Linked DNA regions of Homo sapiens. The protein of the gene in region 4 purifies or fractionates together with the protein of the main gene of each other region. This does not show direct contact. Each region holds a gene or a part of one and is shown on either strand. Other genes may lie near its edges. The genes, in order: TCEAL5, JAG2, PTPRK and ZNF74.

Evidence for each region.
Region 1: the proteins of ZNF74 (region 4) and TCEAL5 purify together in Homo sapiens (affinity purification with mass spectrometry; one large-scale study listed by BioGRID and IntAct). This does not show direct contact.
Region 2: the proteins of ZNF74 (region 4) and JAG2 purify together in Homo sapiens (affinity purification with mass spectrometry; one large-scale study listed by BioGRID and IntAct). This does not show direct contact.
Region 3: the proteins of ZNF74 (region 4) and PTPRK purify together in Homo sapiens (affinity purification with mass spectrometry; one large-scale study listed by BioGRID and IntAct). This does not show direct contact.

What each region holds. Positions count from the first base shown.
Region 1 is NC_000023.11:103,273,097-103,278,319, reverse strand, and holds TCEAL5 (transcription elongation factor A protein-like 5), read left to right. Parts: upstream 1-1,569; 5' UTR 1,570-1,647; intron 1,648-2,977; 5' UTR 2,978-3,045; intron 3,046-3,729; 5' UTR 3,730-3,756; coding exon 3,757-4,377; 3' UTR 4,378-4,629; downstream 4,630-5,223. UniProt on the Homo sapiens protein: May be involved in transcriptional regulation.
Region 2 is NC_000014.9:105,143,826-105,148,605, reverse strand, and holds part of JAG2 (protein jagged-2 isoform a precursor), read left to right. Parts: intron 1-166; coding exon 167-280; intron 281-376; coding exon 377-490; intron 491-717; coding exon 718-834; intron 835-1,078; coding exon 1,079-1,106; intron 1,107-1,194; coding exon 1,195-1,280; intron 1,281-1,881; coding exon 1,882-1,995; intron 1,996-2,105; coding exon 2,106-2,221; intron 2,222-2,632; coding exon 2,633-2,875; intron 2,876-3,544; coding exon 3,545-3,676; intron 3,677-4,780. UniProt on the Homo sapiens protein: Putative Notch ligand involved in the mediation of Notch signaling. Involved in limb development.
Region 3 is NC_000006.12:128,513,627-128,518,406, reverse strand, and holds part of PTPRK (receptor-type tyrosine-protein phosphatase kappa isoform b precursor), read left to right. Parts: intron 1-4,780. UniProt on the Homo sapiens protein: Regulation of processes involving cell contact and adhesion such as growth control, tumor invasion, and metastasis. Negative regulator of EGFR signaling pathway. Forms complexes with beta-catenin and gamma-catenin/plakoglobin.
Region 4 is NC_000022.11:20,400,245-20,405,024, forward strand, and holds part of ZNF74 (zinc finger protein 74), read left to right. Parts: intron 1-387; coding exon 388-514; intron 515-1,032; coding exon 1,033-1,128; intron 1,129-4,780. UniProt on the Homo sapiens protein: May play a role in RNA metabolism.

The DNA.
Region 1 (5,223 bases), on a different chromosome or scaffold from region 4:
TTTGCTGAGACAGTCATAGGTTAGTATGGACTGGCAGGCAGCAATCCTGCAGCAAGGTTAGGCTCCCTCTGGGTTCCCTGAAGATACAGAGTTTGGGGGTGAGAGGCCCGCCAGACTGCACTTTTTAGGCTAGGCGGGAGGTAACAGACAGGGTCTAGGGAGGCTTCCACTCAGGCACTGTGAATAAGGGCAGAGAGCAGGCAGGTTGCAGGGGACTCTACCCCAGCAATCACTTCAGGCCTCATGAACACCCTCAGCTGCAAGGGTCTAGAAGAGATCTGTTCTAGTTTTCTAGAGGCATGAACAATGCTCCACTCTGTGCTGGGGCTGGGTTATCCCTGTGGGAATTAGGGGGAGGGAGGAGGGAAGGAGCCAAAGGCATTTACTCATATCACCACCTTGGTCACCTGTCCAGTTATATTCTTGGACAGATGACTCTTGAGCAACAGAGTCATGTGCCTGGGGATGAGAAATGCAGGGGATGAGAAATTCTAGAATATGAGGGGGTGGAGAAGAACACCTTCCCCTGATCTTGGCAGGGCAGGGAGGATAGGACCATTTCTGCATCCTTCACATCTCCTGCAGCCTTGGTCTCACAGCTCTTCCCTTCCCCTAGAGCTAAACATTTGAATGAAAATAGCCATGAGCCAAATTTTTTAAAGAGACATTTTTGAATTTTCTTTCAACCATCAGATTCCAGCAAGTCTATTTAGCACTCAGTAATCGTTTGGGAACATTAAATGTGTGTGTGTGTGTGTGTGTGTGTGTGTGTGTGTGTGTGTGTGTGTGTTAAATAGAACGTGAGAGAACCAGCTATTTATGAAAAATTTCTAATGTATATTTTGCTTGTTGCCAATTGAATTCCTTGTGTATATGGCAAAAGTTAATATTATGAACCTAATTTGGTCTCTCTTCTGAGTAGAAAATTTTGAAATCTTTTAAGTTTTTCTCTCTCTTAAACACTTTCTCATAAATGAAATAGCTTTATTTAATTTTGTGCTTATAAGAATAACCCATGCTGAGGAGAGTGAATTAAATAAGATCAAAAAAATTTAAAAAAATAAAACCCCTATTTTAACTACTTGTGTCCCTACTTGACAATCCACCTTGTACCCATTATGAGAAGGTCTGGTTCACAGGCAGAATGAACATCAGTGGCTGCGTGTAGAATTAGATCGAGTAGGTGCCTTCGGATAAAAGGAGAGAAAGAAAAAAAATTCCTCTGAGATGTACCAATGGCCAATAGCTCTAGAAGAAGGTGCGGTCCCTCCCTGATAACCACGGAAGAATAAATACATACTACACAGAGAAAGGGCCACATTTGACCTGTGGGATTAGCAAAGACCAAAATGAGTGACAGGGCCCCGTGCTGTGGGGCGAGAGAGAGAGCTAAGCCGGGGTTGGGGGTGCTGAGGGCGCTCAGACGGACAGACTAGTGAAGGGAAGAAGTGGGCTGGCTCCTGACGCACTTTCTGCGGGTGGGAGGGGAACTAGGGACCCGAGCCCACTGGTGACGTTTTTCTCACGTGATCTGAAGCCGACGTGTGCAGAAGTCCCTCTCCTCCAGGTACCAGATCCCTGTTTCCGTGGAGGAAGGCAGACTTCAGACTGAAGGACAGAGAAGGCAACTGCCCTACAGCCCTGCAGGTCGGTACAAGCCGGGGACCCCTGAGGTAGGGATGGTAATGCACATAGGCTACAGAGGATCGGATCTGCTTTCTAGATACCGCCCTGTTCCACCCCCATTCATTTTGGCGCAGAAATTTTTTTGTGTTGGGCAAGAGGTATGGGTACCAGCTTTTATTTCCCTGGAGAAGTGCAGGCTTCTGGCAGAAGGAAATGTGAGAAAGAGTCATTTCCCCGAGATGGCTACGAACCCATCCACAGCCTGTGGATCCCTGTGGTTGGGATGGCAGAGGGCAAAGACCAGAGCGGGTCCAGGACTGGATTCTCTCCACTCCTTTCCCGATGCTCACTCATTTGGTGCAAGAAATGGAGGGCTTGGTGCGGGGCGGGGAGGGGGGAGGGGGGCGGAACTCGAGAGAGGTCAAGGGTTGAGAATTGGGTACCAGTTGGGAACTCCTAGGAAGCCGGCGACCGGGTGATGTCTGATGGAGGAGGAGGAGGACCAGGGAAGAGAACAGCGACGAAACGGCGAGAAAACGGCCTGATCCCTGCAAGGCAGCGGGAGGCGGGCACAGTCAGTGACCCCAGGCTGCTGAGGGCGGACCCTGCAACGGGTCCAGGCCTGAGTTCCCTGTGTCTTTTCTCCAACCTCCCTCCATTTTGGAGCCGGAAACGGTGGGCTAAGGGGGTCAGGGGAAGGAGGTGCTGTAGAAAAAGGGAGACAGAGGTTTGATCTGGGGATCAGCTCCCTATCCAGGAGGAGTGGCTTCTGAAGTAGGAGGATTGAGATGAGGTAGCAGCAAGACCAAAAATGTTACCGGGTTTGGAAATAATTTGTCTCTTGCATTGCAGAAAAATGTGGGCTTTCTGTGTATGTGGGGAGGGAGGAGGTGGCAGGAGTGTTTTGGACATTTCTGCCCTGCCCCCTATCTCTGTCATCACCATTTTCAGAGAAGTGGTGGGCTCTGCTATTTGGCTACCCTAGGGTGAGGGATTTGGAATGTAGAGATCTGAGTGCATCAGAACACTCTGTCTTCAGAACATCCTTGTCTCTAACCCTACTCATTTTCGTGCCAGAAAAGTGAGATAAAAATTTGGGAGGAAGATTCAGAAACATAGAAACGCTTTGGAAATAATCTTTCTCGCCTATTTCCCACAAGTAGAACAATGGAGGCTCTTAAGAAAGAGCTGCGCGCGGAGGGGGAATCAGAGAATGCAAGGGAAAAGGCGAGGAGGTGATAGGAGCTCGGAAAGTTTTGACAAATACGGTCCCAAAGAACCAGTGTCCAAGTTACCAGTCATTCACTTTCTCAATTTCTCATTCACCCACCTGTTTCTTGTCTTTCTGCAGGTCTTCAAGTCTGTGGTTGTGGGCACTAACCCAGACAAGAAAAGGAAAGACCTGCAGTATCGGTGCAGGTCAGTGGGAGAGGGCTACTGCACCAGGACCCTTGGGAGTAGGAGTAACTTAAGCCAGAGCAGAAGTTGGGGAGGCCACTGCCTGCCACCCCTCCTCCAATCCTCCCTCTTGCAGTTTCGGGATACATGACTGCTGTCAAGACCCTAAGGGGATATGGTGATCTATGGCTGGTGAGGATAGAGGGGAGAATAAGAAAGTAAGAGAATGGAGGTGTAGCATCTGTGATGCCCCCTGAGGACATAAGGGTAGCCCTGAAATCTGAGAACTGGCTATGGTTCTGTTCTGTCTGCAGTTTTATAAGTCTTACAACTGCATGCAAGGGGAAAAAGAAGAAAACTGCCCAGGATTTCTGCAGGTCCGTGTAAATTGGAACTACCCAGTTAAAATTGGTATGGGTAGGCATAGCCAAGGCCAGAGCAAAGTTTAAGGGCCAATATGCTCCTACGCATTTCTCAGCACATCCTCCTTAAATGTAGGGAGAAGCACCTGTGGAAGTTTCTGTAAGGTTGGCTTGTGTGAACATGTGTAAAGTGAAAAGGAAAGGAAGGAATGTAAGGGTGGGAGTGCACCTGGAAGATGGGATAGGGCCAGGAAAACCCTAAGTTAAGAAAGACAAGTACTATAAGGACCTGTGTTCAACCCCCAAAGCCCTCAGTGTCCTGTGTCTTCTTTTTGTCTCCTAGGAAAGGCAAAGAAGGGAACATCTCAACATGGAAAAGCTCTACAAAGAAAATGAAGGAAAGCCAGAGAATGAAAGAAACCTAGAAAGTGAGGGAAAGCCAGAGGATGAGGGAAGTACAGAAGATGAAGGAAAGTCAGACGAGGAAGAAAAGCCGGACATGGAGGGGAAGACAGAATGCGAGGGAAAGCGAGAGGATGAGGGAGAGCCAGGTGATGAGGGACAACTGGAAGATGAGGGAAACCAGGAAAAGCAGGGCAAGTCTGAAGGTGAGGACAAGCCACAAAGTGAGGGCAAGCCAGCCTCCCAGGCCAAGCCAGAGAGCCAGCCGCGGGCCGCCGAAAAGCGCCCGGCTGAAGATTATGTGCCCCGGAAAGCAAAAAGAAAAACCGACAGGGGGACGGACGATTCCCCCAAGGACTCTCAGGAGGACTTACAAGAAAGGCATCTGAGCAGTGAGGAGATGATGAGAGAATGTGGAGATGTGTCAAGGGCTCAGGAGGAGCTAAGGAAAAAACAGAAAATGGGTGGTTTTCATTGGATGCAAAGAGATGTACAGGATCCATTCGCCCCAAGGGGCCAACGGGGTGTGAGGGGAGTGAGGGGCGGAGGTAGGGGCCAGAAAGACTTAGAAGATGTCCCATATGTTTAATGTCTTTGGCCTTTAATTCTGATTTCTCTGATGGGAATATTGCCAGTCCTGCTTTTCCTGGCAGGCATTTGCCGGCCTATGTGCTTTAACCTTAAGCTGATACTTTCCTTTAGGTGTCACTCTTGTTACCAGCAGACTTTTGACCCAACTACAGTGCTCTGTCTTTTAGTAGAGGATTTTCACCCATGTGCATGGAATAAATGTTCATGGTACATTGTAAAATAACAATAAAAAAGAGTTTTCAGAACCATGTATACAGTATCAGCCCATTTCTGAAAAAAAATGTTTACATAATATATCCATACATGGGGGACACTATGCAATTGAGTAGATCAAAGAGAAATCATGAATTTCTTTGTGTGGTGGGACTGAAAATTATTCTTTTTCTCATCTGTACTTCTTTTAAATCTAAAAAGCACAGGCTATTTTTGTTTTAAAGGAAGTAATAAAAGGTAAACAAAATAGGAAAATAGTAAATACTAGGCAATCAAAAGAACTATTCATTGATCATATTAAGGCAGTGGAGACAAAATTCTTGTTAGAACACAAAATGATAGATAAAACTCACATTACCCCTGGGACTTGAAGTTGGAGGAATCAACCTGGCAGTTACTACAGATTCATTGCTATAAGAGACAGCCTTGTGTGAAATGGGGCTGAAACTTACCTCCCAGGGCTGTGGAGTAGATCAGATGTGACGCTTGAGTCTGTGACCTATGTTAGGCTGGCTCCTGCCCTCTCCCCTGCACTAACAGTACCAAGTCAGACAGTTGGTGAGGGTATGGAGTGTTGCGGAGGGAGGTCTCACCTGTGCCTAAAAATAGGTACAGGAAGCTGAGAGATAGT
Region 2 (4,780 bases), on a different chromosome or scaffold from region 4:
TGGAGTCCCAGGCTGCCCCCATGCCCGAGGCCAGCTCCCCCGGCCCGACGCTCCTCCCCCGCCCCTCTCTGTCCTCACCTGGCCCAGCTCCAGTGCTTCCTCCCCCGGGAAGCCCTCCCTGAGCGCCGGTGACCCCCCGCCCGCTGACCGGCGTCCTCGCCCCCAGATCCCAACGACTGCCTTCCCGATCCCTGCCACAGCCGCGGCCGCTGCTACGACCTGGTCAATGACTTCTACTGTGCGTGCGACGACGGCTGGAAGGGCAAGACCTGCCACTCACGTGAGTGTCCGCAGGCCCTGGCCGCCTGGGGCTGCCCCCAGGACCCTGGCCCTGGCGGTCTGGGGCCTGCCTGCTGAGCGGCCCATGTGCCAACAGGCGAGTTCCAGTGCGATGCCTACACCTGCAGCAACGGTGGCACCTGCTACGACAGCGGCGACACCTTCCGCTGCGCCTGCCCCCCCGGCTGGAAGGGCAGCACCTGCGCCGTCGGTGAGGAGCCCCCGCTGCCTCTGCGACCGCCGGGCATATGCCCTCCCAGGCACCGCTCCCTCGGGCGCGATGGGCCGAGGGGTCTTTTTTGAGGGCCACACCTGCCACCTGCCCCCTGCCCCCTGCCCCCGGGTCTGTCTGCCCTGTCTGGGTTGGGGGCGCGGTATGGAGACCCAGGGCCAGCCCAGGGCCAGGTGAGACGCTCCCTCCTCCTCCTCTCCTTACAGCCAAGAACAGCAGCTGCCTGCCCAACCCCTGTGTGAATGGTGGCACCTGCGTGGGCAGCGGGGCCTCCTTCTCCTGCATCTGCCGGGACGGCTGGGAGGGTCGTACTTGCACTCACAGTGAGTGTGGGAGGGGTGTGGGCGGGGGCCGCTTTCCTCCACCCAGATGACATCCCTGCCCCCGACTCGCCCCCCAGTCCCTTCTGCCAGCCCCTCCCCCTGCTGCCCCTGCCCCCAGCAAAAGGCACCCTCCTTGATGACCCTCCCCAGCCCCACAGCCTGATCACGCCAAGCCAGCCTGGACAGTGCCTGGCACGCTTGGGGGGTGGGTACTGATCCCCTGCGTTCTCTTCTCCCAAACCAGATACCAACGACTGCAACCCTCTGCCTTGGTGAGTGGCACCCTGGGGGCCACAGCAGGGGTGGGTGGGACTTGGCATACCACGGGGGGCCACCTGATGCCCACCCTCTGCTCTGCAGCTACAATGGTGGCATCTGTGTTGACGGCGTCAACTGGTTCCGCTGCGAGTGTGCACCTGGCTTCGCGGGGCCTGACTGCCGCATCAGTGAGTGGCCAGACAGCCCCAGCCCTGGGAGCCCCTCAGCCCAGCCGCGGTGTCAGGAGTCTGGGGACATCAACGTCCACGTCCCTTGAAGGGCAGTGTGGCCACAACTACTTCCTGCCTCTCTTCTGAGCCTCAGTTTCCCCACATGTCTGTGCCCTGTGGGGTTCCTGCTGTATACCCTGCCAAGTGATTAAGTGGGGAGCCCCAGCCTGGGGGACCAGTCCGGGGCCCAGGGAGCTGTGGGGGTTGGAGCGTGCAGCCTGACGTGGGCTCCTCTGTGGCCGCAGGGCTGTTGTCCCTGGGTGTTGGCCCAGCTGTCTGTCCAGCACCCCTTGGCTGGTCCGACGCAGCAGCTGGGGCTAATCCAGGATGGGACAGGCCCACTGCAGAAGCAGACGGAGGAGGGTGCTGTTGGGCCAGGGTCAGGCTGGGCTCAGGAAGGCCTCAGGCAGGCAGCAGCTTGGGCTCGGGGGCAGGGGCTGCTCCTCATTGTCCTGGGGCTTGCGCCTGTGTGCCACTGGCTCCCCGCTGCCCTAGGCCATGCCGGTCCTGCGGTGGGCGTTGGCCTCACTGCACTGAGCAGCGGTGGCTCTCCCTGCAGACATCGACGAGTGCCAGTCCTCGCCCTGTGCCTACGGGGCCACGTGTGTGGATGAGATCAACGGGTATCGCTGTAGCTGCCCACCCGGCCGAGCCGGCCCCCGGTGCCAGGAAGGTAGGCCCCGTGTGATTGCCCTGGGTTGGGGCGGGTTGGGGGGCATGGGTGACACCCAGCCCCGAGGGCCAGATGCCCACTGCTGACCCTCGAGCCCCTTCTCCCCACAGTGATCGGGTTCGGGAGATCCTGCTGGTCCCGGGGCACTCCGTTCCCACACGGAAGCTCCTGGGTGGAAGACTGCAACAGCTGCCGCTGCCTGGATGGCCGCCGTGACTGCAGCAAGGTGAGGGCAGCCCGTGAGCCGCCCTGCCCTACCCGAGGCTGGTGCACGCTGACCCTGGCCACTCTGTGAGATCAGGAGGCGGGTGCTGGGGTCCGGATGGACTGAGAGCCGTCTGCCCTCAGGGACACCCAGGGAGGCGAGAGCTCAGCCAGGCCCCATGCTTCGATGTGCAGTTGGGAAAACAGGCCTGGTCTGGGTCCTGCCTTGCTCCGCCTGCCCTTTCTGATGTCGAGCTTGGCCTGCCTCCCTGGGAGCCCTGGGTAGGGGGTGGGCTGGGCCCTGGGGCTCACAGACTTGGGCGGTGTCCCTCCTTGGCATGGGGCCCGTGCCTGCCTGTGGGTTCTCATCTGTGTGCCTGCATCTGACCCTCCTGTGCGCCTGCGCCTGACCCTCCTGTGCGTGCCTGCCCAGGTGTGGTGCGGATGGAAGCCTTGTCTGCTGGCCGGCCAGCCCGAGGCCCTGAGCGCCCAGTGCCCACTGGGGCAAAGGTGCCTGGAGAAGGCCCCAGGCCAGTGTCTGCGACCACCCTGTGAGGCCTGGGGGGAGTGCGGCGCAGAAGAGCCACCGAGCACCCCCTGCCTGCCACGCTCCGGCCACCTGGACAATAACTGTGCCCGCCTCACCTTGCATTTCAACCGTGACCACGTGCCCCAGGTGAGGGGCCTGGTGGCATCTGAGCTTGCAGAGGCCACACGCCGGCATCTGCTCGTGGCATGGCGAAAGCCTAGCCCCGCAGGGCAGGGAGGCCCTGGTTGGCTGAGCAGAGTCACTCTTGGTCACAGAGAGTGGCCCTGTGGGGTCAGATGAGAGGGGCATTGGGCCTGGTGCTGGGTGGAGGTGGCAGAGGAGGCTGGGAGAGCAGCCAGCTGGGGGTGCCTGTTTGTCCAGCTGCCCTGAGGGCCTGGACTGACGGCGCCATGGCTGCCTGGCCCCAGCTCTTGGGCTGTAGCTCCGTGGGCAGTTTTGCCCTGGCCTAGGAGCCACCTTTGCCTGCTGTGTGCTTGGAGCTGGGCCCCTGTCTCCCAGGAGGGGCTCAGAACTGGAGGAGACCCACTGTACCCCGCCCTGCCTCTCCTTCCCCCACTGGCCTGCAGGTGGAGCTGGGTCCGCCCTGAGGATGGGCGGGTGGGCACCGTCACTCCTGCCTCCTGGTATAGGGCACAGCCGGGTGGGAAGCTGCCCCCCCAGGCCCTTGGCATCCTTGCTGTGCTCTCCTGGGCGGGCTGTAGGGTGTGTCCCACGTGTACCCACAGCGCCAGTCCAGGGATGTAGGTGTCAGGTTCACGGCCCTGCCCTGCCCACGCACTGCCTGTCTCTGCCCAGGGCACCACGGTGGGCGCCATTTGCTCCGGGATCCGCTCCCTGCCAGCCACAAGGGCTGTGGCACGGGACCGCCTGCTGGTGTTGCTTTGCGACCGGGCGTCCTCGGGGGCCAGTGCTGTGGAGGTGGCCGTGGTGAGTGCCCAGTGGGGAGCAGCACCTGGGTGGGCCCTGGGTCCCGTACTATGCAGGTCCTGGCTATGCTGGACAGAGGCTCTGGCGAGGCTAGTCCTGGTGCGGAAGGACTGCGGGCAGGCCTGTCTCCCTGCGGCCCCTCGCTGTCCATGCCGCAGACCCGTGGAACTGCTCCCTGGGCCTGGCCAGCATGAGGGAGATGCAGGGCTGTGGTGTGGAGCCCGCTTCCCCTGCAGCTGCATCCTCGCCCGGTCCCCTGCTCTGTTTTTGTCTCTGTGTCCCTACGTCACAGGCAGCAGGAGAGTCCGTGGGCTTAGTCTGCCCTGGGAGGCCTGCTTTGGGACTGGCACCTGCCCTGGACCTGGGGGGTGTCAGATGTGAATGGATACCAAGGGGGTCGGGTGAGACTGGGGTGGAGACATGCCCGGAGAGGGGAGGGAATGTTCTGGAACATGGTGGGTGGGTGTGCAGAGCAGTGGGTGTGGCCATGGCACAGTGTGGCTGGTGGAGGCCATGGCCAGGCACAGGAAGGACGTGCAGTGTTTTGGTGCCCTGAGGCCGCAGAGGGGGTGGGGGACATGGATGGGTGCTGCTGGGTGATGGAAGGGCAGTAGGGGCAGGGGAAGATGTAAGAAGTGTGCCAGCACAGGTCAGGGCGCCATCAGGGATGTGGTGGAGGCAGGGGCACAGCCCCGGGTTGCTGTGGCCTCGTGAAGGCACTAGGTTTGTGGTGCCCCTGGGGTGTGGCCCATAGGTGGGGGTGGGGGCTGGGAACTGACAAGAAGGGATGGCCATCACGGAGCAGGTGTCAGCGAATGGGGCCACACACCTCCCCAACTCACTGCCTGGTGGCGAGGTCCCCACCGCAGGACCCCGGGCTCTCCTGTGTGCCCGGACGGGGACACCCTCCACCCCTCCACTTCCCCCCACCCCTCACTGCCTGCTGGTGAGGTCCCCACCGCAGGACCCTGGGCTGTCCCGTGCGCCCGGATGGGGACATCCTCCACCCCTCCCCTTCCCCCCACTGCTCGCTGCCTGGTGGTGAGGTCCCCACACCTCAGGACCCTGGGCTCTCCTGTGTGCCCGGATGGGGACAGCCTCCAC
Region 3 (4,780 bases), on a different chromosome or scaffold from region 4:
ACCCTTTAATTAACAAATAAATACTACTTTTCCTCCAGCTGAATGTGAAAATGAGCTTTTCTGATACCTGGAGTTTAGATACGTACAATAAACAATTGTGTTCTTAGATATCTAGTTCTAAGTACTTTAACTAAATATGCCTGGCTTTTCTTTAGTGACAAAGCATAACATTTGACATGATGTTGTATATTTAATTAATATAATGTGCATTCCTAAAAAGTACAGTAATCACAGGATTGCATCTCAAGATTTTGCCCTTTAGGAATGTATGCCCAGAAATGAATGTCTTTTATTCCCAGAGTTTAAAGTCAGATTGTGGATTTGCCTTTCTCCACAAATTATAAGTTTGTTTTGTAAATACTTCCTTTTTTTTCTGGCTACCATAAATCATTTGATATTTTATTGTCATAAAATTCTATGGCAGTCAGATTTGTTGCAGACATAGATTAGAGATGTATTGAAGATTGGAGGTGTATTCCATATTGCTGGTTTTTCTTATATTTTACTTTAACTAGTGAACTTTTATTCCTTTTGAGAAATTTAAATAAACCCACTTTAAAAGTCCAAGACAAATTCATGTTGAGAATTTAAAAATATCTGAAGTATGTCTTTCAAATCATACTCATTAAGATCAGTTTACTTTCCGATATCATGTGGTTCCTAATGTAGTAAGCTTCAAAAGCAAATTTTGAAAGGCTGAGCATTGTTGGGACTTTGATGTGTCATATACTTATTCAGTTTTCTTTGTTTAAACCAAAAATGTAAGAGTGTTTTCATTATTGTGACTTTTTTCTTAGCTTTTGCAGTTAAAGTGTAAAACTGCTGCACTGTGAGCCTCTTTAAAACCAGAACGTTCTGTAAATCCCAACTCATACATTCTTTCAGTTTCACCTCTCACTTAAAATGACACCCATGTCATATCTGAGGAAACCGAGGCATAGAAGAATAAAGAAGTATTAAAGTTTATTCACTGGGTTGTATAGCTGTGATCTCTTGATATAATGTAAGAAAGTTTTCTGTAGAAGGACTTAGATGACTGACGAAACCAGATGCAGGTAAGGTGACTTGGAAACTCAGCTTTCTCCTCTGTAAAATGGGGATAATAATACCCAACTTGACCTTTCCACATGTTTTTTATGATTAAATGAAGTAATTTATGGGAACTAGCACTGTAAATTGTAAAGCACTGTGCAGCTATCTGGGGTGTAATCATCATTAAGTGCCTTAGTCTCAGCTTTTTACTCCTTCCAAATTCTCTCTCCAGTAAGTGCAGGCTGTTCAGGATTTGTGTGTGAGTGTGTGTGTGCGCACGTGTGTGTGTGCATGTGTGTGTGTGTTTTCACTCAGCCAGTCATTCATTTAATTATTGTTTAACATAGTTATTGTTAAACATAAACATACTAGATTGGCCAGACCATAATTTTGTCAGCACAATGATCGATTATCCTTAATTTTTTTAACTTACCTCGTATAAATCCTTACTTGAGTTAGACCCATGGAAGAGTCACTATTAACATTCCTGGCATTTCTAACTACAGAAAAAAATATTTTTAGTCAGTTTCTTTAGCTGTTTGTTTAACTGTTGGTTCAGGTTTTCAACTCTGTGTTGAGAATAATATGTAGCTTTCTAGATGCAGTCTTATCAATGACCTAGAGAGGGACTATTGTCTCTCTTGTATGATAGGAGCCTGGAAATACAGCTCGAGATCCTGCTTTGTCTATAGTTCCTGACATGTCACCCTGTTGATGTGCACTTAGAATGCTGTAACTCATCTAAGCAGCACCTGAGCAGTATCTGACTCCTTGTTGTCTCTTTAGGTGAGATTAATTTCTCTTATACTTATTACCTGCTAGGAAGATACTTTGGAGCCAGCTTGCTTTAAGGTTTGCCTGTTAGTTTTTTTTGGTTTTGATTGGCTAAATATCCCTCGATCCCTCAATTCATTAAAACTCCACGTTCTAATCACTAGCAATCATATGTAGCTGGACATTTCCAGGACTGTTTTTTTTTCTCTCTCTAGTTCTCTTGCATCTGACTCTTGATTTTCCTAGGTCGTGAGATGTAGTTTTGTGTCTGGCCTACCCAGACGGAAAGAGGAGAGTCTGGCTGCTGTTTGGACATTGGCATGTGTGCTGCTGACAGCTCTTCTCTTTGTGCTCATAAAAGTGAATTTCAAAAATAAATCAACCCCTCTGCCACTCTGCCCCCTCCCACACTCCCTCCTACTCTTTTCTAGCAAAAACAGAGCCCCACATATATATACACAAGATCACAGCCCTTTTGTTTTTGCCAAATATATTTTAGTGCTGTACATGTCCTTAAGAACTGGAAATATGACTCATCCACTAACCAAAGCTAATGCCAACATTCCCACCAAATCTCATATTTCTAGCAATGATGGTTTGTTACAGGTTTTTCTGGCCTTTAAGGTAATATTTAATTCATGTGATAAGATTCCATATAGAAAAAGTGTGTTGGCTACTAATATTTTTAAAGTGCAGTATACCAGGTCTACTCAAACTGGTATTAAAGACAGTGAACATCATGCTAAATAGGGATCTGTGCTGCTCCCATTTCCCCTACTTGCTTTTCATGGAGTGCAGGAAGAGAGATGCTGGAAGATTGAGAGCAGGAAGCATCAAGAAAGTTTACAGATTGTTCTTAAAGACAAAACAAAGAACACAGGGATTCTGTGTGTGTGCACGTGTATGTGTGTGTGTGAGTGTGTGTATGTGTTTTTGATCTTTTACTTAATTTTTAGAAGAGGAAAAAAGTCCTATGGTATTTTTGACTTGTTTATTGAAATCAGCCTTTGCCTTTGCGCAAACACATTTTCTAGTTCTGTCAATGTAAAAATTTCCCTCTGTGTATTCTTCTCAGTCTTTACACTTTGATCATATGTATCTGGTCTGTGTTCCTTCTTCAAATGGTGTTTCTTTTTGCCTAAAAAGGTTGTAATTGCTTTTGAACATGACTTGTTTTTTTAATCAAAACTCATGCTGTTTGTCATAGTACTGAAAAAAAAAAGTACAAGACATCAATTCATGATAGGTCTTAAAACAGTATTTGATAACAAAGTAAGTGAATAATACATTAATCAGGCTATTTTTTATTTCAATTGAAGCAAAAAGCAAACTTGCATATCCATGAACTAATCTTTTAATGTCACAGAACATTTATTTGTTGCTGTTTCTGAAGTCTTTAAGTTCCCTTTTATAAATGGGGATAGACAATTTCAGAACCACATTGCTTGATATTTTGAGATAAGTGAGATAAGTTACATACAACTATGCCTTGGAAAACTGAAAAAATGTTATGATGTTTGATATCAGTGTGAACTCTGAATAGTTTGTAAACTTCACACTCCACATTAGTGCAAATGTGTTTTGTGAAAATACTCCTAAAGAAACGTAGTTTCACATAAAAGGTTTTTAAAGTTTCATGAAGATTCTGTTGTGGGAAGTATGTTTATTTTCCTTTTGTATTCTTGTGGGAATTCTTTTGATCTGTATTTAATATTTTAATAATGAAAACTAAGTGTATGTAATTTTAAAACTTAGTTTCGTGAGGTTTTTTTTAGATTGTTGAGGTTCTGGGAAAACACTGGGCCTGGGATCTAAGGATCACATTGATCCTCTCGTGGAACATTGCCATTTCCCCACTTAACTCTGGTTGAAATTTTTGGCATTCTCCTTCGTGTGTTGATAATCCATAAAAATTACAAGTGGCTTATTTTGTCACTTACAGTTGTTTTAGGATCAAATTAAGTTGTCCTAAATGGAATAATCCGTGTTTCCACTTGATATGATTATTGAGCTCTGATAATGAAAATGATGAACAGGGCAGTGCTGGCTGAATCCTCCAACAGGTGTCATTCTAGGAATTGTTTTAATAAGGGGAATTCAGAAACAAGGCAAAATAAAATAGTGCGTAGTGGAGTTATTGTTTGTATTTATTTTGTTGGGAAATGTGAAAGATGTAAGTATGTAGTCCTCTGTGTGAATACACACACACACACACACACACACACACACATCTTAACAATGCTAGGACTTAGTTGTAGAAACATTTAGGTTAGAAAGAAGGTAAGGGCATCTAGAGATGGTATCAAAACTCCATACTTAACATTTTTGGAAAGAGTAGTGAAAATAGATCACTACTTTATTTCATAGATGTAGAAACAAGTGGAAAATAAGCTGTATATAATCTATACTGTATACTATACTATACTGTTATACTTTTAAGGATAAAATAATAAATCTTTCTCCAGATTGGTATCTATTAATATAAACCCTTCCCAGTGCAGCCTGTTCCTTAACCAGCTGCTCATAGGCCGATTCTCCAAGCGCTGTTCAAGGCAGCAGCTGACCAGCCACAGAAATTCCCTTAATCCGTGTTGGATAGTGGAGGTGACCTAGCAGCTGCTTAAGTGACAGACTGGCAACAGTTCCTTGATGTGATTTTTCTTAGGTCATTCAGTAAATTCAAGAGTAGAGAGGAAGGCTTTCTAGGGTCCTCACTACCCACCCAGGGATTGATGACTGATTGCTTCATGGTCATTGGATTCCTCACTGCAAGGTGTCCTGGGATTTTGTGGTTCATGGACCAATATAATTAGCATCATCTGGAAATTTGTGATGATCTGTGATCATCAGAGTCACCCCAGATCTACTGAATCAGAATCTGCATTTTGATGAAATCCCCAGGTGATTTGATGGAACATTTAATTCTGGGAAACACTGCTCTAGGACAAAGAAAGCTCAGTTTAAAAAGATTGTC
Region 4 (4,780 bases):
TTGTACTATTAATATTCTCTCAAATTTTTAAGTTTGAAATTCTTGACTCCAGGAAGCATAGCATCTCACCCAGGACTTAGAGCCTGATACAACAGCCATGTACAGCCCCTGGGTCCCACCGCAAGTTGCCAGGGCCCTGTGGTGTCTATTCAGACCTGCTTTCCCAATCTAGAAGGTGGTGTGGGAATGCATGCCAATTCCCAGCCCCCCTCCCTGCCCCTGGTCCCCGAATTCAGTCATGGTCAGTGTCTACAGCACAACCTTCTGGCATGGGAGAAGGTCACCTGAGGTTAACCCTTTACTTGTAGGGTCCTTAATCAATCTCTGGCTCCTTTGGAACCATGGACACAGAATCAGTCCTGGGTGAGAACCTATATGTCATTTCAGGAATCGGTGAGTTTCAAGGATGTGGCTGTGGACTTCACCCAGGAGGAGTGGGGTCAACTAGACTCCCCTCAGAGGGCCTTGTACCGGGATGTGATGTTGGAGAACTACCAGAACCTTCTTGCCCTAGGTAAAATCCCCCCAGCCCCAGGCTGGGCGTCGGCTGTCAGCCTTCTTCTACATGGTAGATATTAAGGAGAATCCCTTCAGTGCCGGCCCTGGTGCCAGATATATCATGGGGTGGGAAGCAAGGCCTGTGCCTTGGGGCACTCATGGCCAGGGGCCTCGGCCACGCCAGAAGTCCCCAAGGGACAGCGTGGGAGCTGGTAGCATCCTTGCTTGGTGTTTCCCCTGGTCCTGGGATAGGGGCAGGGAGAGAAGAGAAGAAGGTGGGACCCTGGAGCCCAGCTGGCTCTGGAACAGTCCTCAAGCAATGAAGTAAGGACGTCAGCACACGTGGGGTCTTCAGAGTATACACTGGGATTTGGGTTCCAGTCTGAGACCCTCACTGCTTTTGGCCCAGAGGACCTCCTGTTCCCAGAGAGGGTGTCCACTTCACAGGCATTGTCCTTGTTAGGGGGCGGCCTGTAAGGTCGACTGGGCCTGGAGAGCTGCAGCATGCCCAGCCCACTTTCTCTCCACGAGCAGGACCTCCACTGCACAAGCCAGATGTGATCTCTCATCTGGAACGAGGCGAGGAGCCATGGAGCATGCAGAGGGAAGTCCCCAGAGGGCCCTGTCCAGGTGAGCAGAGGCACAGGTGGAAGGGTGCCAGCCCCAGCACCCCTGGTGGCACCTCCTCCTATGGCCCCTATTTTCCTCCCTCAGTTTGCCCCGGCTCCATCTCCCCTTTTCAGGTCCCCCGCCAGACCCTCCTGCCTGCCTCCCTTCAGCACGTACTGAGCACTGCCTGTGTGCTGAGACCTGTTCTGGGATACAACAGGGAACAAACCTGGCCACTGGGACCAAATGGTCACCTGCTGATGGGGATGGGGAGGCAGGAATAGAAATATTGAGCCATTGGTGTTGGCTGGGCAGCCGGGGGTGTGGGATTGGGGGCAGGGGGCCACCAGGGAAGGGGCAGCTGGCGTTGGTCAGTGTCAGGGTCAGCATGAGCATCAGCATCAGGGCCAGCGTCAGCGTCAGGGTCAGAGCCAGCATCAGTGTCAGGGCCAGCGTGAGCATCAGCATCAGGGCCAGTGTGAGCATCAGTGTCAGGGCCATCATCAGCGTCAGGGTCAGAGTCAGCATCAGCATTAGGGTCAGCATCAGCGTCAGGGTCAGGGTCAACGTCAGCGAGGGCTTCCAGGCTGTGGCCAAGATGGCAGCCCTCCGTAAGGGAAAGGGGACTGGGGTGGGTGTTGAGCAGAAGGTAGTCTGCTTTTCTTCTCCAACATTCTTTTTGTAGACTTCTCTTCTGAGTTGGTTGATAAATAAGTGGTAAATTCGGCTTAATTTATTGGACAGTGACTGCTGAGCATGTTAGGTGTCTAGAAAGCTCGAGAAACACCTTTCTGTGGGAAAGGCAGCCGATAAGCTGTGGAGCACAGAACACGGGGGTCGGGGAAGGCAGCCCCTCCTCCATCCCCCTCCACTGCCACATACCACCCAGCCCCAACCTGCAACAGTGGCTGCAGCCCCAGCTTTCTGGTCTTTATTTCTCACCCCAGCCTCTGATGCTTGCTTTGTCCTCTTTAACAAGATTACAGGTTTCAAAAAATTCATATTTTTGTTTGATTCATATATGAATATACTGAAAATGAGGCTGAAAGGTTACTGAAATCCTGCATAATCTTTCCACCCAGAGATGACGGTTCTCTAATAACTGACCATGTCACTGATTCCTCTGGGCCCTTCCTCTGTGTGCGGATAGACTTCTAAAGCTACATGTGGCCAGGCGTGATGGCTCACACCTGTAATCCCAACACTTTGGGAGGCCGAGGCAGGCAGATCACCTGAGGTCAGGAGTTCGAGACCAGCCTGACCAACATAGAGAAACCCTGTCTCTACTAAAATTACAAAATTAGCTGGGCATGGTGGTGCATGCCTGTAATCCCAGCTACTTGGGAGGCTGAGGCAGGAGAATCGCTTGAACCCAGGAGGCAGAGGTTGCGGTGAGCTGAGATCGTGCCATTGCACTCCAGTCTGGGTAACAAGAGTGAAATTCCATCTCAAAAAAAAAAAAAAAAAAAAATTAGCTGGGCGTGGTGGTGAGCACCTGTAATCCCAGCTACTCTGGAGGCTTAGGCAGGAGAATTGCTTGAACCCGGGAGGCAGAGGTTGCAGTGAGCCATGATCGCACCATTGCACTCCAGCCTGTGTGACAGAGCTAAACTCCATCTCAAACAAATAAATAAATAAAGCCTTATGCACCCTCGGAAGCACAGCACTCACGCCGGAGTCTGGCTACCACACTGGCCATGGCATAGTGAGCGTCCTCACGTGATGTTTACTGATTGCACAGTATCCCTTAGATGAATGTGCCCTGCTGTGTTGTTGGCCCTATTGCTGCCAAAACAACTTTTTTCTGGCCTGGGCCTCTTCTCTCTGCTCTGTGCAACTTCCCTAGACTCTTACCTCTCACTTGGTGTGGATGTGGTCTACACTATAGCAACACCAGCTGAGCTGCAGCCCTGTGTCACTGACCATCTCGTGGGCCTCTGCTTGCATGTCTAAAACCAGACTTGGAACTGGCCCTTCCTCCTCCTTTATAAAAGCTTCCACCATCCACCCAGGCTTGGGTGTTTGCTGAGGTCTCATCCTCTCCCCCATTTCCTCTCTTGCCACCTTCAGTCAACAGCTAGGGCCATCAGTTTTAGCACCTAAATGGCTCTTAGATCTGCTGCTTCCTGTTCATTTTCACAGCCTTGGTTCCAGTCTGAAGTTGCCATTTTTCACCTGAATTATTCAGATGGCCTCCCTAACTGGCCTCCCTAACTGCTGGCTCCAACCACCTTACACACCACCAAAGCCACCTTCAAGACAAACCATTATGCCAGGCACAGGGACTCACACATCTAATCCCAGCACTTTGGGAGGCCAAGGCAGGAGGACCACTTGAGCCCAGGAGTTGGAGGCTGCAGCGAGCTGTGATTGCACCCCTGCACTGCAGCCTGGACAACAGAGCGAGACTGTGTCCCCGCCCTCTGCTTCCCCCGCCCCCCGTCAAGACACCATATGATCACATCACCCTCTGTGCAAAAGGCCTTTCTTCCCCGGCTGCCCTCTGAGTCAGGCATCTGGTCACCTCGAACCCATCCACCTTGCCAGGGTCACCTCTCAGCCTTCCTGCCTCTGCGTGTCTTGTCTTCATCTTACTGTCTCACCTCTGAGCTTCTGCACATGCTGTTCACTCTCCACCTGGCTACCTGCCATGTGTGCCATGGCCAGTTCCACTTGCCCTGCTCTTCTGCATGTGTTGGGGCCACAGGCAGCACCACCATGCAGCTCTGCCCGCTGCACTAGACTGCTCCCTTTTAAGCCTGGGGAGGACAGAATTAGAAATAAAATCTCCTGCCAGCTCAGAAAACCTTGCTATAGAGATAGAAAAGAAAGAAAGCCTTCTTATTGAATAAGTGTTTAACCAGATGTGGTGTACAGGAGAGAAAGAAACCTCCCCCTTTGACAGAGGAGACACATCCAACCCAGCACACAGGGCAACTGTCTTCACCTAAAGGAAGAGTACAGCTTTTTGGGTTTTGTTTGTTTGTTTGTTTTTTGAGACAGGGTATCCCTCTATTGCCCAGGCTGGGGTGCGGTTGCATGATCATAGCTCGAAGCCTCAACCTCCCTAGGCTCAGGTGATCCTCCCACCTCAGCCTCCTGAGTAGCTGGGACTATAGACAGGTACCATCATTCCTGGCTAATTTTGTATTTTTTGTAGAGGGGTCTCACTGTGTTACCCAGGCTGGTCTTGATCTGGGCTCAAGTGATCCGCCACCTTGACCTCCCAAAGTGCTGGGATTACAGGTATGAGCCACCGCGCCCAGCCTCTTGTAGCTTTTTGACAAGCAGGAAGTTACATCTTGGACTCGACTCTTGGACTAGGCTCATTTTGCTTCTGAAAAGGTTTGCATGCGTCTCGAGACAGAGAAAGCATTTGCAATTCCCAGTGTTCTAAAGGGAAGCGCTGGGGTGTGGGGAGCCCTTTTTTCCTTTTGGCACCACAGACAATTTTTAATTCATTTGTTAGTCCTAGCTACTCGGGAGGCTGAGGCCGGAGAATGGCGTGAACCTGGGAGGCGGAGCTTGCAGTGAGCCGAGATCGCGCCACTGCACTCCGGCCTGGGCGACAGAGCGAGACTCGGTCTCAAAACAAACAAACAAACAAAAAACATGTATTTGTCCTGTGTATTGCGAGCACCTGCCATGGTATTGATACAGAGCAGTCGGTCAG